Linked DNA regions of Homo sapiens. The main gene of each other region encodes a partner of the protein of the gene in region 2 in a complex. Each region holds a gene or a part of one and is shown on either strand. Other genes may lie near its edges. The genes, in order: CSTF3 and CSTF1.

Evidence for each region.
Region 1: the proteins of CSTF1 (region 2) and CSTF3 are in contact, whole or in part, in a crystal structure (PDB 6B3X), measured with the Homo sapiens proteins. Residues at the interface, in NP_001028693.1 of Homo sapiens: Arg118, Glu216, Ala217, His226, Pro227, Ser228, Asp230, Phe231, Thr240, Arg242, Leu243, Tyr244, Cys251, Phe252, Val253, Ser254, Cys255, Tyr270, Ser272, Ser273, Ala274, Asn275, Gly291, Val292, Ser293, Asn294; in NP_001317.1 of Homo sapiens: Tyr581, Pro582, Lys583, Pro584, Asp585, Thr586, Gln588, Met589, Ile590, Pro591, Phe592, Pro594.

The regions. Positions count from the first base shown.
Region 1 is NC_000011.10:33,151,173-33,158,944, reverse strand, and holds part of CSTF3 (cleavage stimulation factor subunit 3), read left to right. Parts: intron 1-7,772. UniProt on the Homo sapiens protein: One of the multiple factors required for polyadenylation and 3'-end cleavage of mammalian pre-mRNAs.
Region 2 is NC_000020.11:56,387,959-56,396,058, reverse strand, and holds the start of CSTF1 (cleavage stimulation factor subunit 1), read right to left. Parts: upstream 3,415-8,100; 5' UTR 3,346-3,414; exon of another isoform or gene 3,244-3,345; intron 539-3,243; 5' UTR 507-538; coding exon 338-506; intron 1-337. Other genes in the region: AURKA (aurora kinase A), read left to right, coding at 7,651-7,747, 7,857-7,903. UniProt on the Homo sapiens protein: One of the multiple factors required for polyadenylation and 3'-end cleavage of mammalian pre-mRNAs. May be responsible for the interaction of CSTF with other factors to form a stable complex on the pre-mRNA.

The DNA.
Region 1 (7,772 bases), on a different chromosome or scaffold from region 2:
GTCTCTTAAGTAGTCTCACCATTCTTCTCCCCTGGGGCTGTTGTCTATTCGAAGTGTCAAGGACACTTAACACTGCTTTTCTGGGTGTATTTGTTTTTTGTTGTTTGTTTGCTTGCTTGCTTTTGGTTTGGGGGTTGATGATGTCATTTAACTTGTCCCTTCATCTGTATTTCCTGAAAACTTTACAGTTAGGTCTATACTCAGCCTTGATATTTGGGTTAAGTATTTTTGGATAGAATACTTAACATTATATCATTACATTAGCAGGTACTTCTGCTGGGTTCTGTTAGGATGGTTAAGTTTGATCACTTGGTTTAGGGTGATCTCATTGTTAAGGGTCATGTTCCCCTTTGCAGTTAATAATCTGTGAGTTGATAACCGTTTTCTTTAAAATCACCTTATACCTAGTTATCAATTGATAAATCTTGACTAAATCAGCTCTTACATTGGAAGTAGCAAATGGTGGTTTTGTTTTGTTTTTAAAACCCACAATTCTGTTGGTCTGTGTCTGTTTACTGGCTCATACTTTCTGCAAAAAAGACTTTTTTTCTTCCTAAAGATTAAGTATCGCTATGGATTCATGGATTTCTCTTAGTGTGTTAGTATCAGTGATAGCCATTTTTCTTTTGCACACTCAACTTGTCCAAACCTTTTTGGTGGTTCTTATATCTTTTCCTTAAGTCTGAAAGGCAATTTAGACATCTGATTATCAACAAGGAAGTCATCTTCATATAGCCTTTTCTTTAACTTTTTAATAATACATTTCAAACATGTAAGAAAAACAGTATAATATATGAAGTACCTGTCATAGAGCTTCAATTTATGGCTAATCTTGTTTCCTCCATGACTTCATTTGCTTCTCTCACCCCCATTACTTCGAAGCAAATCCTAGATACTGTATTCAGCTTCAACTAAAATAACCATTAAATAACACCTTAAGGATGGAAAATATGAATGAGCTGTACCTTGCTTGATATTTAAGACAATATTGAAAATCTGGAGGAAAAGAGAGTATCCAAAATAACCTGAAATCATGGATGAGAAAAATAAACTCAATGAGACTAAAGAATAATAAGAAAAAAATTAAAACCATTGAATCATGGATTTGCTTTGGAAAAATGCCAAGGGATGGGGTGGACAAAGAGTCCTACAAGATGCAGGTGTAGATTTAGCCTTTTAGTAGCATTGAAGTTCAAGTTTGTAGAATAAACCTGATACTATCTTAAATTTATTACTAAAATATATGGATAGTCATTTTTCTCTTGGTGCTAAGATTTGTGATTTGTGCCCCCTAACAGAGGGAAATTATTGCAGACAAGCAAAATCACTGCTAAAGGTTTATTGCTGTGATTTTTTTTTCAACTCTAGTAGGGAAGTTCAATTTTGCATGTAGAGAGCTATTGGAATTACCTTATAGTGTTCAAGGATCTCTTCTGAAGCTCCTTGCTTATTGTTTTTGCCAGTTTAATGGTGAAAAAACTATTTGCATATAGGTTTACCCCCCTAACAAACATATGATTTCTGTGTGGAATTATGGCTGTATTATTTATTTCATGGTTTTGTTTTTTTGTGTTTGTTTTTTGTTTTTTTGAGATGGAGTCTTGCTCTGTTGCCCAGGCTGGAGTGCAGTGGCACGGTCTCGGCTCACTGCAACCTCCGCCTCCCAGGTTCAAGCAATTCTCCTGCCTCAGCCTCTTGAGTAGCTGGGATTACAAGCACACGCCACAATGCCCGGCTAATTTTTTTGTATTTTTAGTAGAAATGGTGTTTCACCATGTTGACCAGGCTGGTCTTGAACTCCTGACCTCAAGTGATCTGCCTGCCTCAGCCTCCCAAAGTGCTGGGATTACAGGCGTGAGCCACTGCGCCCAGCCTGTGGTGTTTGTTTTTTTTAATGCCTGATTCAACTTTTGATCTCATTCTTAGGTCTATTTAACCTTGTGCACTACTCTTAAGGCATTTAATATGCTGTTATTTAGACATTTTCCATTGGGTTTTGAACTTCTTTAGTTGAAGAGATGATGTTATTCATCTTTATGTCTTAAAGACCTAAGAAATAATATTTTGATGCTTAAAGGTATTCAGTAAATGAATGGATTAAGTTTGCATCTTTTAAAAAAAATTATTTATTTACTATTTAGGTAGAGACGAGGTCTCACTGTGTTTCCCAGGCTGGTCTTGAACTCCTGGACTTAAGTGATCCTCCTGCCTCAGCCTTCCAAACTGTTGGATTACAGGTGTGAGTCCAGCCATATTTCACCTTTTAAATAATGTATAACTTATCCTAGAATTTGGAAGGCCTAAAATACAAGCCAAATGATCCTCAGCTTGGAAAAGCTACATGATTCTAAGAAGCGCAAATTAATTGCTGGTAGTTCTTAACAAAGGAGCATTTAGGCTCATAAATACGTGTTTTTAGTGAAAAATAATTTTGGGAAGATTTAGAAAATAATGAAGAGTATGTGTCCTATTATATACTTATTATTAATAAGGAAAGAAAAAGTTGAAACACCCACAGCATTGAAACCTGAAACCTGGTTTATTTCGTTAGGTAAACATTAGTACTTAAGCTGTTTAGAAGTAACAGTATCGCCAATTTTAGTCAAGGTGCATATATGTGTAGGGGTTAGAAGAGGCAGAGAAAGAGCCAACTATGTGTGTTGGACAATGTGTTTTTTTGGATTTATTTTTTCCAAAATCTTTCTGTAACAGCCCTTCCTAGTTTTCTGCCTCCTATTTTTAGTGATGCTTGTTTGGTGTAACAGTTTTGGGCAGGCAAATTGATTTGATCTTTATTGTTGATATTTCTTAGGAAACTGGAGCATTATCAAATATTCTGTTTGGGGACAGTTGTTCCTAAGAGAAGTTGCTCTGTGCTTAAAGAATGAGAATTGGGTTTTTCTTAGAGATACAGCAGAAAGGTACTGTGTTAGGTGATACTGCATTCCTTCAACATTATTTCAGGGAATGTAGGCATTTACATCCCAGATAGACCTTCAGAAGGGCAAAATCTGTATTTGGGTGTTTTTACCTATTGGACAATTACCCATACCAATTCATGATTTTAAGCTTTTTTTTTTAAATCTTCGATTTGGTGACGGTGATTTTAAGCTTTTCTACCATGTCTCTGAATCTTTCTCTTTAGATAGGACCTACCTGTGAATTTGAGTCTTTTTGTTTTGTTTTGTTGGACAGTTGGTAATGGTGTGAGAATTGGGCTAAAAAAGGGATTTGAGTTGGCAGTTGTTTAAACTATCTTTAGATTAATGGACAACTTAGGATACATAGTAAATATTGAATAAAATCAGAAGGGCAAAGCTTCTGTGTGTCCTAATTAATGTTTTTCTAATGTTTGACTTAGTTTATTTAGTGTATTAAATCTGGATTATTCATATTTGAAAGAAGTCTCATCTTTTAAGTTCCAAACGGTTAAGATTTTAATTTATATTTTGTAGCTATTTGTTTCCTAGGGGATGAATATGCAAGTTTACTAAGCAGATAATGGTAAATATAATTATTTGAACTAATATGTTAAGCCAAGATCTTTTTTTTTTTTTTAATTTTTTTATTTTTATTTTTTCGAGACAGAGTCTTGCACTTTCGCCCAGGCTGGAGCACAGTGGCGCAATCACGGCTCGCTGCAAGCTCCGCTTCCTGGGTTCACGCTATTCTCCTACCTCAGCCTCCCTAGTAGCGGGGACTATAGGTGCCCGCCACCACGCCCTCACGCCCAGCTAATTTTTTATATTTTTAATAGAGATGGGGTTTCACTGTGTTAGCCAGGATGGTCTTGATCTCCTGACCTCATGATCCGCCCGCCTTGGCCTTCCAAAGCGCTGGGATTACAGGTGTGAGCCACCATGCCCGGCCCAAGATCTTTTTTTTTTTAAGTTTTTGAGTTGTTTGTATGTTTAGATTTTTAATCTATGGATGATTTGGAGGGATTAGTTTTGTATTGTAGGATACATGTTCAGTTTCATTCACAACAAACATGAAGTAGGGTTTGGTTGCATTGGTAAAGGAACACAGAACTAAGCTGACATCTGGTCCTAATATCCGGTCTCATTGTGACACCTGTCACATATAGTTCTTTATTATCTGGGCATATGAATGGAATCAGTTAGGTTACTCCTCTATGAAAGTCTCAGCACGGCACCGTGGCTCACGCCTGTCTGTAATCCCAGCACTTCGGGAGGCTGAGGCTGGCGGATCACTTGGTCAGGAGTTTGAGACCAGCCTGGCTAGTATGGTGAAACTCCGTCTCTACTAAAAATACAAAAATTAGCTGAGTGTGGTGGTGCATACCTGTAATCCCAGCTACTTGGGAGGCTGAGGCAGGATAATCACTTGAACCCGGGAGTCGGAGGTTGCAGTGAGCCAAGGTACAGCCACTGCACTCCAGCCTAGGTGACAGAGTGAGACTTCATCTCAAAAAAAAAAAAAAAAAAAAAAAGAAAGTCTTACGGAGTGCTACTCCGGTCTACTTTTAATTTTGAAAAAAAGTTAACCACAGAGAGAGACTTAAGACTTCAAATATATAGTATATTCAGTTTTCTTAATATTTTAGCAAAAAATTCACTTGGAATGACAGGTTTGTTGCCACCTTATTTTTAATGAAACGTGACATTTGGAAAACATTTGTGGAACAGATAGATGAGGTGGTACATATTTCTTAAAGTGGAGCCCATGGCCCATTTATGTCATAATTAGGTGCGTTATAAAAGTATAGATACGTAGACTCTGATTTCAAACCTAACTGTTCAGTGGGGCTGAGAATCTTCGTTTGAAACAGGTACCACAGTGGTTTTTATGTCAATAAAAGCTTGCAGACCACAGAGTTAGATGATAGCTGGTTGTTTTAAAATATATTCTTGATAAATAAGTGGATGAAAAAATGGCAGATATTTGAGGATGGTATTTTACTGATTTTTCCTGCCCACCTGCTCCCCACCCCCATATATTTAGTTATTACCCTGAATAGCGAGAAATACTCATTATAAAACCAGGGTTGAGGCTCAACTCTGCTTTTTCTGTTGGTCATAGTAAAAAGCTTACATCGTCTTAAATCTTTCAGTCTACCATCTTTCTCCCCCTCTATTCATACTTTTGTGTTATCACTTTAACTGATCCCTACTTTAACTTAATTTCAGTATGGCTCCTAATATAACACCCTTCTAATTTATCATGAAAGTAGCTATTTGGAGAAAGAGAATTATCTTTTTTTTTTTTTTTGTCTGTTTTACCTGCATGGTCGAAATGGAAGAAATTAGATTATTATTATTATTGTTATTATTACTATTTTTTTTAGAGATGAGATCTTGCTCTGTTGCCCAGGCTGCAGTGCATTGGCGTGGTCATAGCTCACCACAGCCTCAACGTCCTGGCCTCAAGGACTCCTCCCACCTCAGCCTCCCAAAGTGCTGAGATTACAGTTGTGACCCACTGTGCCCAGCCTTAAATTATATTATTTCAGTCATTAACATGATAGTGTCTGTCACCTCTTCACATCCCACCTTCCCATTAACAACCTCCTAATAAAAGTTATGAGCTCATATAGAAAGAAAGTGGTTAGGAGTTTCAATAAAGCATAACTCATAGGGCTTTCCAGAGGCTACATCACCTATCCACAATTGTATGTAAAGGCTGTTAAAAATGGTCTTTCCTCCCTTTTCCAACTACGTAACTGTGAGGCTAAAATTTTTTCATATTTTTCATCTAAAACAATATATTGTAACAGATTGAAAGAAGCAGATAATGTCTTCTATTCAGCCAGACATTTAAAAGATCATGAAAATGTAAAATGGTGCCATTCTTTTGACTTTTTTTTTTATTTTGGAAAATTTCCTTCAGTAAAATATTTATATTCATATTTAAGGAATTTATTATTTTTAAGTGAATTAAATACTTTAATTTTTTGTTTTAATTTCTTATGTGAGTAATGATAGAATCCCTCTGGGCTCCTCAATTATTATTGTTATTTTTTTTTTTGGAGGCGGAGTCTCACTCTTGCTCAGGCTGGAGTGCAGTGGTGCGATCCCAGCTCACTGCAACCTCCACCTCCCGGGTTCAAGCGATTCTCCTGCCTCACCTTCCCAAGTAGCTAGGACTACAGGCATGTGCCCACACCCAGCTAATTTTTTGTATTTTTAGTAGAGACAGGGTTTCACCAAATTGGCCAGGCTGGTCTCGAACTCCTGACCTTGTGATCCGCCCACCTCGGCCTCCCAAAGTGCTGAGATTACAGGCGTGAGTCACCGCGCCCGGCCCAAGCTCCTCAGTTTTTAAGAATGTGAAGCAATCCTTTACAAAATGTTTGAGAATAGTTGGAATAGTACATCATGTCTGTGAAGCCAAGATTGTAAGTTCTATTTCTCTGAGTTAGTTAGCTTCACATAACAGACGGTTAAACATGGAAAGTGGCAAGGCATCCCACAGAATAGGATACAGTTTTTGTAAATCATGTCTGATAAGGGATTTGTAACTCCAACATGTAAAAATTCATTAATGAAAAAACCCAGCCAGGTGCGGTGGTGCACGCCTGTAGTCCCAGCTATTTGGGAGGCTGAGGCAGGAGGATTGATCGAACCCAGGAGTTCAAGTCCAACCTGAGCAACATAGCAAAACTATACCTCTAAAAAGTAATAATAATACGTCCAGTTTTTATTTTATTTATTTCTATTTTTTCAAGACATAGTCTCGCTCTGTCGCCCAGGCTGGAGTGCAGCGGCACAATCTTGGCTCAGTGGAACCTCTGCCCCTCCCCGCCGGCTCAAGGGATCCTCCCACCTTAGCCTCCTGAGTAGGTGGGATTACAGGTGCCTGTCACCATGCCTGGCTAATTTTTTGTATTTTTAGTAGAGACAAGGTTTCACCATGTTGGCCAGGCTGGTCTCAAACTCCTGATAAGTCCAGTTTTTAAATGGGCAAAATATTTGAACAGACATTTCTCCAAAGAAGATGTACAAATGGCCAATAAGAAAATGAAAAGACGCTCTACTTTGATAGCCATCAGAGAAATGTAAATCAAAACCACAATGAGATATCACTTCAGACCCACAAGGATGGCTGTAATAAAAAAGATAATATCAAATGTTGGTAAGGATATGGAGAAATTAGAACCCCTTATACTGGAAATGTAAAATAGTACAGCCCCTTTAAAGTCTGGTAGTTTTTCAGAAGGTAAAACATAAGAGTTACCACATTACTTAGCCATTCCATTTCTAGGTATATATCCAAGAAAAAGGAAAACACACAAAATGAACTCCACAAAGAAATCTTACACACTAATGTTCATAGTAACATTATTCATAATAGCCAAAACTGGAAACAATCCAAAGTCCATCGGCTGATACATAAACAAATGTAGGATATGCACATAATGGAATATTGTCAAAAGTAAAGTACTTAGTATATGCAAAAACATGAACTTTGAAAACACGCTAACTGAAAGCCAAAACAACGCCAGTCATGGTGGCTCACGGTGGTAATCCCAACACTTTGAGAGGCCGAGGCAGGTGGATTGCTTGAGCCCAGGAGTTCAAGACCAGCCTGGACAATATGGCAAAACCCCATCTCTATAAATTATAAAATTTAGCTGGGCATGGTGGCACATGCCTGTAGTCCATTATCGGGAGGTCTAGGTGGGAGGATTGATTGAGCCCAGGAGGTTGAGGCTGCAGTGGGCCATGATTGTGCCACTGCATTCGAGCCTGGGTGACAGAGTGAGATCCTGTCTCAAAGAAAAAAGAAAACTAGAAACAAAAAGAACACAT
Region 2 (8,100 bases):
ACGAAAGGGTCGGATTATTTTAGGAGGAGTTAAGAGAACTCAGATGACATTTGATGTAAAATCTGAAGGAAGTCAGTAATATGTCTGACAGAGTGTTCCAGATAATGTGTACAAAGACCCTCAGGCCAGAACCAGCTTAAGGTCTTCATAATCTGAACTTTGCTTTACCCCTTACTTACTGAGCTACTTCCTGAACTCATGCTGAACTACTTACTTACTGAAGTACCCGGCTCATACTAGGTACTGAAACAAAACAAGAATAATCTTGAAAAATTCTGCCATATGAAAATATCTAAAACCTTGCCATGGGACGTATGGATTTGTGTTCACAATCTACCGAGTTTGATGAGATGCAGGAGCTGCTCCGAGGGTGCACACACAGACTGAGGCTTGATTTCATTGATGAGGCCATTGGCGATGCTGATGTAGCCGTCATATAGCAGCTGGCTAATGATCAGCTTGTAGAGCTGCTGGCGGTCCTTCAAGCCCACTTTGGTTCTGTACATCTTGGAGAAAAGGAAGACAGTTTCCCTGCCAGCTGCAAAAACGGAAAATGGACGGTGAAGGGTACAGGCTCTAGTAAATCACAGAAGCAACATAGGACTCTTTGGTCAGACTTAATCTTGCAGGACTCAAATCCCATCTCTACTAGCTGCATTATCTTTGGTCAGTGACCTCATTTCTCTAAGCCTGAGGTTCTTCAGCTGTTAAGTTACTGGAAGTTAAACACGGTGGTGCATATAAAGCCCTGAGCACAGTGCCTGGCATACAGAAATTGTTCAAGTCATGTTAGCCAGTGTTTACGGTACAATCTCTCACCAACTTTTCTTCTCCACCAAACTAGCTACCTATGATTTTTGTTCTTTATTGTTATCCCAGAATCTTCCATTACTTCTGTTAATTAAACATTGACTGGTACCTGCAATATGCAAGATAGCTGCTATTTTGTCAAGATCTAGACTGCTGGTTCCACTAGCTGAGCTGTATGTTTACTAATCTTTTATGCTCATTCTCAAAACCTGTTTTAAGGCAACTGAGCTTGTTACTGTAATTATATAATCTAATTAGACAGTAAATCAAAATATGAAGCAAAAAAAAGCAACTGTACTACAAAAACTCCAACCGAGTTAAATGCGTTAGAAAGGCTCAAAGGTGAGCTGCCCAATAAAATATTGCCAATCAAGGTCAAAACAATAAAAATGAAAAAAAAAACAGTAATAATCGGGAAGGATTGTGCATGCACTGACTTACAAGTGTCTAAGTTTTCCTTCAGTCTTAAGAGACAAAAAACTGTAAATGGTTTCTGGCTTATTCAAAAAAGAACTCCAACTGTTCAACATGATAATTTGCTTACCAAAAATCAATGCCTTTATGTATGTGTATGTTTGGACCAAGATTAAAAGGCTACAGGTGTCTGGGGACAGCAATAAAGAATAAAAGTGACCTCAGAGCCTGATTTCTTTTTTCTTTTTGAGACGGAGTCTCGCTCTGTCGCCCAGGCTTGAGGGCAGTGGCGCGATCTCGGCTCACTGCAACCTCCGCCTCCTGGGTTCAAGCTATTCTCCTGTCTCAGCCTCCCGAGTAGCTAAGACTACAGGCGCCCGCCACCACACCAGGCTAATTTTTGTATTTTTAGTAGAGACGGGGTTTCACCATATTGGCCAGGCTGGTCTCGAAACTCCTGACCTCAGGTGATCTGCCTGCCTCCGCCTCCCAAAGTGCTGGGATTACGGGCGCGAGCCACTGCGCCTGGCCCAGAGCCTGATTTCTTACACACTGTATGACACTGATGGTGTTAATAATAACCAATAACATTAAGCACTTCCTGCATGCCAGATACCGTCATGCTAAGTACTTTGTAAGCATCAGTTCACTGAATAAAATCATTCAATGTATTCAAGTATATGAAGTAGTACATGAACATAGTAGGTCTATGCTTGAGTAGAAAATCCTGGGACACAAATAAAGATGATGAAATGGGTTCAAGGAGGTCAGGACACCTACTCAACGTAAAAAGTGGCTGAGTTACTTGTCCAAGGTTAAAGCACACCAGAATTGCCAACTCCAGATCCCTGAGCTTAACCACTGAAGGAGTTCAGGAAATGCCAGCCCAAAACAAGATGCTTTGGCGGGCTGATTACCTTGAACTGAGGGCACCTGGAGAACAGCAGGCGGGAAGAGGCTTTCCCTGTGCTTTCCTTACCTGCCTAAAGTCTGACCCTCCAAAAATACCTCAATTGTCACGAATCCTTATAAACCAGGGAAGATTAACTCGGATCACATGAGAGATTAGAGGCTGACACCACCCAGAAGATCACCTATTCTGTCTGCATAACAAACTTGATTCACCATACATTTCCTCCGTTCACCGTCCCATAACTTGTGTTAGAGCTGCTTCCCGCCCCCCGCCCCCAATTCTCTATTCATTCCTTTCAGTAGCTCAGGATGCCATGTAGGCTTTAATCATCTGACTTCAACTTTTAGTCTCGTATTTTGTGGGACTCCTGTACGTAATTAAATATCGTTTTTCTCCCATGGACAATGTTCAGTTACCCGAAAAAAATGGGAGATTCTTAAGTACCAATAAAGAATGAAAATCACAAGTGGGTAGTCTGGCAAAGAAAAGTTGATGAGAGATTCTACTGTTAACGTTGGGTTAATATGACTCGAATAATTTCCGTATGCTAGCTCAATGCTTTACATGCACATCCTGTTTACCCTGCAGTAATCTGTTAATTCGTCTTATGTGAATTTAACTCTTAGTCCTAATAAGGTACCTGGAAGGATGGAGGGAAGCCATTTTTGGTTCCCCTACACCACTGTTCTATCCGGTCTCTTCACTTCTGCTGAGCACATCCCGGGTGTACATACACACACACACACACACATATGTGTGTGTATATATATGTATATGTGTGTGTGTGTGTATATATATATATATTTTAAGTGGCCCACCCCTAACTTCTCAACTCCCACAGAACGTTCACTCGCCAGGTAAACAGAAGCCTAATTATCCCCAATTTGCAGGTGAGCACACGAGGACAAGAACCCGATCCAGGACCGGATACATCGCAGTTGGAAAGGCTAGAACACAGATGCCCCCTCACTATATGCGCCGCGACCATCTGGATGCAGAGGCGAACTAAGGACTGGGTGGGAATGGAAGCGAGGCCCTTCGAGAAGAGGAAGGGGTGCAGGCCAAGCCGGGCAACTTAGGAAACGCAAAGTAGAGGCGCATGCCACCTTGCTAACTCTCGACTCTTCCAGTCTCGCCCCAGTCGTTTCTGTGGTTTTCTCTAAATGCCCCAGCCGACCGCACCAGCTACTCTCCCCGTGTCCCAGTACCAGCTGGTCCGGTTCTCTTGGTATCCCGCTCTCTCCTGGAAAAATGGAGGCGCGAATCCTGCCCAATCTACCGCTCCGAGCGCACGTTCACTGCGCACGCTGAAAGGGCGCCAAGCCGACCGCTGCGCTATCGATCGGTCCCACTCTCTCTTGCTTTTCTCGCCATCTTACTTACTGGCACGTTCAAAGGTTAGTTCACCTCCTTGGACTTTATCTCCAATGCGTCAAGCTTGACGTCAAGGGGCTGTTGCTTCACCGATAAATGGCCGACCGCGGAGAGCACCCTGGGGCTGGGACTGCCACAGGTCTGGCTGGCCGTTGGCTCCACCACTTCCGGGTTCTTAGGGAGCAAGTGCGCCTGCGCGCGGTGTGCGCCCTTAAACGCGACTCAAGGCGTCGGGTTTGTTGTCAACCAATCACAAGGCAGCCTCGCTCGAGCGCAGGCCAATCGGCTTTCTAGCTAGAGGGTTTAACTCCTATTTAAAAAGAAGAACCTTTGAATTCTAACGGCTGAGCTCTTGGAAGACTTGGGTCCTTGGGTCGCAGGTGGGAGCCGACGGGTGGGTAGACCGTGGGGGATATCTCAGTGGCGGACGAGGACGGCGGGGACAAGGGGCGGCTGGTCGGAGTGGCGGAGCGTCAAGTCCCCTGTCGGTTCCTCCGTCCCTGAGTGTCCTTGGCGCTGCCTTGTGCCCGCCCAGCGCCTTTGCATCCGCTCCTGGGCACCGAGGCGCCCTGTAGGATACTGCTTGTTACTTATTACAGCTAGAGGTACAAGGGGTTTGTTGAGTGGTGTTGACATGCGCGGGAGGGGTGGGTGGGCTTCAGATTGGATTTTGTCCTCCGAGATCACCTGGGTAAGAAAAGCACAGAAGGTCTCTGCTGTGTTGGAGTTCACGTTCTAGTGGGTGGGGAGACAGACGGTAAGCGTACGGAGAACTTGCAGCTGGGGTGGGTGTTACAGAGGAAAAGCAGGAGTGCGGTTTAACGGGGGCCGCTTTAGATAGAATAGCCTAAGAAGGCCCTTGTCCTGGCTGGATGAGTGGGTGAATTGATGAATGAGAACCTCCTTGCAGAGGCCTTCCCGGTCCGTACTTCTCAGACCGTAGACCTTGGAGCAGTTGTACCGGGATAACTTGCAGTGCTTGTTAAACATATAGCTCCACCGAGAGCCCGGTAAATCAGAATCTCTGAGGGGTAGGACCCAGGTGTCTAGTTATTAACAAACTCTCCAGATGATTCTTAGGTTTCATTGAGAACTAGGGATGCAGACCGGTGCATACAAATCGTCTGGGGACGTTAAAATGCAGAATCTGTTTTTTTAGACCTGGGGTTAGGCCTCAGAGTCTCCATTTCTAAGAACCATCCGGCTGAGGTAGACGTAGCCACTGTCCTTAACTCTCGTAATGTCTCTTCCTCTTCCGTAACCTTCCTTGTCCCTTGAATTAAACGTTTTTCAGCAACCTACTCAGTTCGTCCTTCCCTTCATCTCTGCAGACATGCACAGGTCTGAGGGAGGAAGGAATAAACCGTATAAACCTCCTGCGCTATTAGCCTAACAGCTTTTCTATTCAAAATAGTAGGACTTCTGGTTTGAACTGAATGGATCCTGTGAAAGTCATCTGGTTCTTCAATCTGGTTGCAGATTAGAGTCACCTGAAGGGCAGTCTCCTTGGCGTTGTCTCCAGAATTCTGGATTAGAATCTTATTCCATTCTGCTTGTTATTCAATTTCCCTAGAAAGAAAGGTAGAATAAATTGGAGCAAATGCCTGTAGCTTCTGTCAGAAGAATGTTGAATAAATGTTGTTAGGCCTATGTGATCTCATTAGACTGCTACTTAGAATTGTAAGGGAAGTAAAGCATTAGAGCATGTGTGAAATTAAATATTTGATTAACACAAGTGTGCATTTCCTTGTTGCTGTTTATCAACTTTTACTTACCCACTGTTTTTTTATAAGGGCTGCAGCCTGTAGTCTGGGCCTGGCTTCATCATGGAATTATTTGCTTAATTGTAAAATGGTAATCTTAATTTTTTTTTTTGAGACAGGGTCTCACTCCATTGCCCAGGCCAGAGTGCGGGGATATTTGATAAGAAACTTCAGTGAAGGCCGGGCGCGGTGGCTCATGCCCGTAATCCCAGCATTTTCGGAGGCCGAGGTGGGTGGATCACCTGAGGTCGGGAGTTCCAGACCAGCCCTACCAACATAGAGAAACCCTGTCTCTACTAAAAATACAAAATCAGCTGGGCGTGGTGGTGCATGTCTGTAATCCCAGCTACTCTGGAGGCTGAGGCAGGAGAATTGCTTGAACCCAGGAGGTGGAGGTTGCGGGTGAGCCGAGATTGCGCCATTGCACTCCAGCCTGGGCAACAAGAGCAAACTCTATCTCAAAAAAAAAAAAAAAGAAACCTCAGTGAAATGAAAGACTGAACTACACACCTGGGGGAAAAGCGTAATAAAGGGAGCAAGAAGTGCAAATGCTTATGGCAGGGGACTTATTTGCAGAAAGAAAGCCTTGTGTGGCTGGTACACGGTTGACAAGAAGAGGAGATGAAGTCAGAGAGGTAGTTAGGGTCCATGTTCTGTGAGACTTCAATAGGCCTGTCTATGCAGGTTAGGAGTTTGCATTGTTTTGATTGAGTTGGGAGCCATGGGGGTCTTCTGAACTGAGGATCAACACATCTGATTTGTTAATGAGATTGCCGGCCTCAGTGTTAAGAATGGACCATGACAGGGTAAGGGTGGAAGTGGGGAGGCCATTGGGAGGCTGTTGGAAAAAACTCAAGGGAGAGAGAATAATGGTTTGACCAGGTGGTAGTAGTAGAGGTGGTGAGCAGTGATCTTGAAGGCAGAGCCTACAGAATATGCTGGTGGATTAAATGAAGGGTTTGCGAGAGAGAACCTCGTAAAGGGTTATTATGCCAAGGCTTTTGGCCTGAGCAACTGACAGGATGGGTTTGCCATGCACTGAGATGAGGATGTCTAGAGACTAGATTTGGGGAGGTGAGAGTGGGGAGAGATTAGGACTTCTGTTTGGGACATGTTAGAATGGAGATGCCGCTCAGATAATCAGGTGCAGATGTTGCATAGAAAGTAGAAAATGTAGATCAAGAGTTCAGGGGAGAGGTCTGGGCTGAAGAATGAATATTTGGGAGTCCTCAGCCTGTAGATGGTACTGAAAGCAAAGAGACTGGATGTACTCGGCTAGGGAGTAATTGGAGATGGAGAAGTCATTCTAGGCCTGAGCTCAGGGCACACCCATGAACAGGGAGGTGAGAAGTGGAGAAGGGAAGAGGTTCAGTTTTGGATATGTTAGGATTGAGGTGCCTGGCAGACATTTTTGGGAGATCCTGGGCAAATCCTTGGATATCCAAGTCTGACAGTCCAAGGAGAGACTAGGGCAGAAGACGCACTTTGAGTGGTCCTCATGAAGGCATTTAGAGCTGAGGCACTGGGTGATATGGATCCCTGGTGAAGGTGTAGATGGAGAAGTGGAGGGTCCAGGGACTCGTTCTTGAGTCACCCCAGACCCTTGATCTGGCAAAAATGAGACTGACCCAGCAAGGAGGGAAAGACAGGACGACTAGGTGGTAGATAAACCTGGAAGTGAAGTGAAGAAAAAAGTGTAAGATGTGATCAACCTTGTCAGATTCTGCTGAGGATGCAAGTACGGGGAAGGTGGAATTGACCCTTGGGTTTGGCAGCAGTAGGTGTCAGCCATGAGCCTGACAATGTGGTGGAGACAAAAAAGCCAGGTGGGGATGGGCTCAGGGGAGGGGAGAGGAGCAGTAGAGGTGGCAAGTGTGGACGGTTCTTCTGGAGCTTTGCTGTTGGAGAGGAGGGGGTCATTGTTAGCAACGATAATAGAATAAAGAGGACTTTTATTTTATTTTATTGTTTTGAGACGAAGTCTCGCTCTTTTCCCATAGGCTGGAGTGCAATGGTGTGATCTCAGCTCACTGCAACCTCTGCTTCCTGGGTTTAAGTGATTCTCCTGCCTCAGCCTCCCGAGTAGCTGGGATTACAGGTGACTGCCACCACGCTCAGCTAAGTTTTGTATTTTTAGTAGAGACGGGGTTTCACCATGTTGGCCAGGCTGGTCTCGAACTCTTGACCTCAGGTGATCCGCCCACCTCGGCCTCCCAAAATGCTGGGATTACAGGTGTAAGCCACCATGCCCGGCCTAAAGAGGACTTTTTTAAGGTAGCAGGTATGCCAGTAGGCTGCACAGGGATGGAAGTGATCCATTAGAGGAGAGATGATGGAGCAGCAAGACCATCAGGAGTGAAGACTCCGTGACAGAGGATGGGACGCAGTGCCCAAGGGGAGGTTGGCCTTGCAGGGAAAGCACATGCCTGTCCCTCCCTCATTAGCTTCATTTGGACAAAACATGTAAAATCCGGTGTGTTGTGGAGGCCTTTTGATTGGGGAACTGTAACGCTGCCTATCGAGCAACAGCACTTTAAGCAGGTGGCTTTGTTCAAATTAAAGGTTCTTCTTTTTCTTTTCAGGCATCATGGACCGATCTAAAGAAAACTGCATTTCAGGACCTGTTAAGGTAAATTGAATAATCTGTAATCTCATTCACATTTATAAACCCACATGGAGGTTGGTCTTGTCGGGAATTCTTTCCGCCTTTACTTTGGATTTAAATTTAGATCCCTTACTGTGATCCTGGATATGAATTAGTCACTTTTCTCGTGTTCAGTAACATTTTGCTGCTTCTTAGAGTAGCTTTTTTGTTCTGCTTTGTCT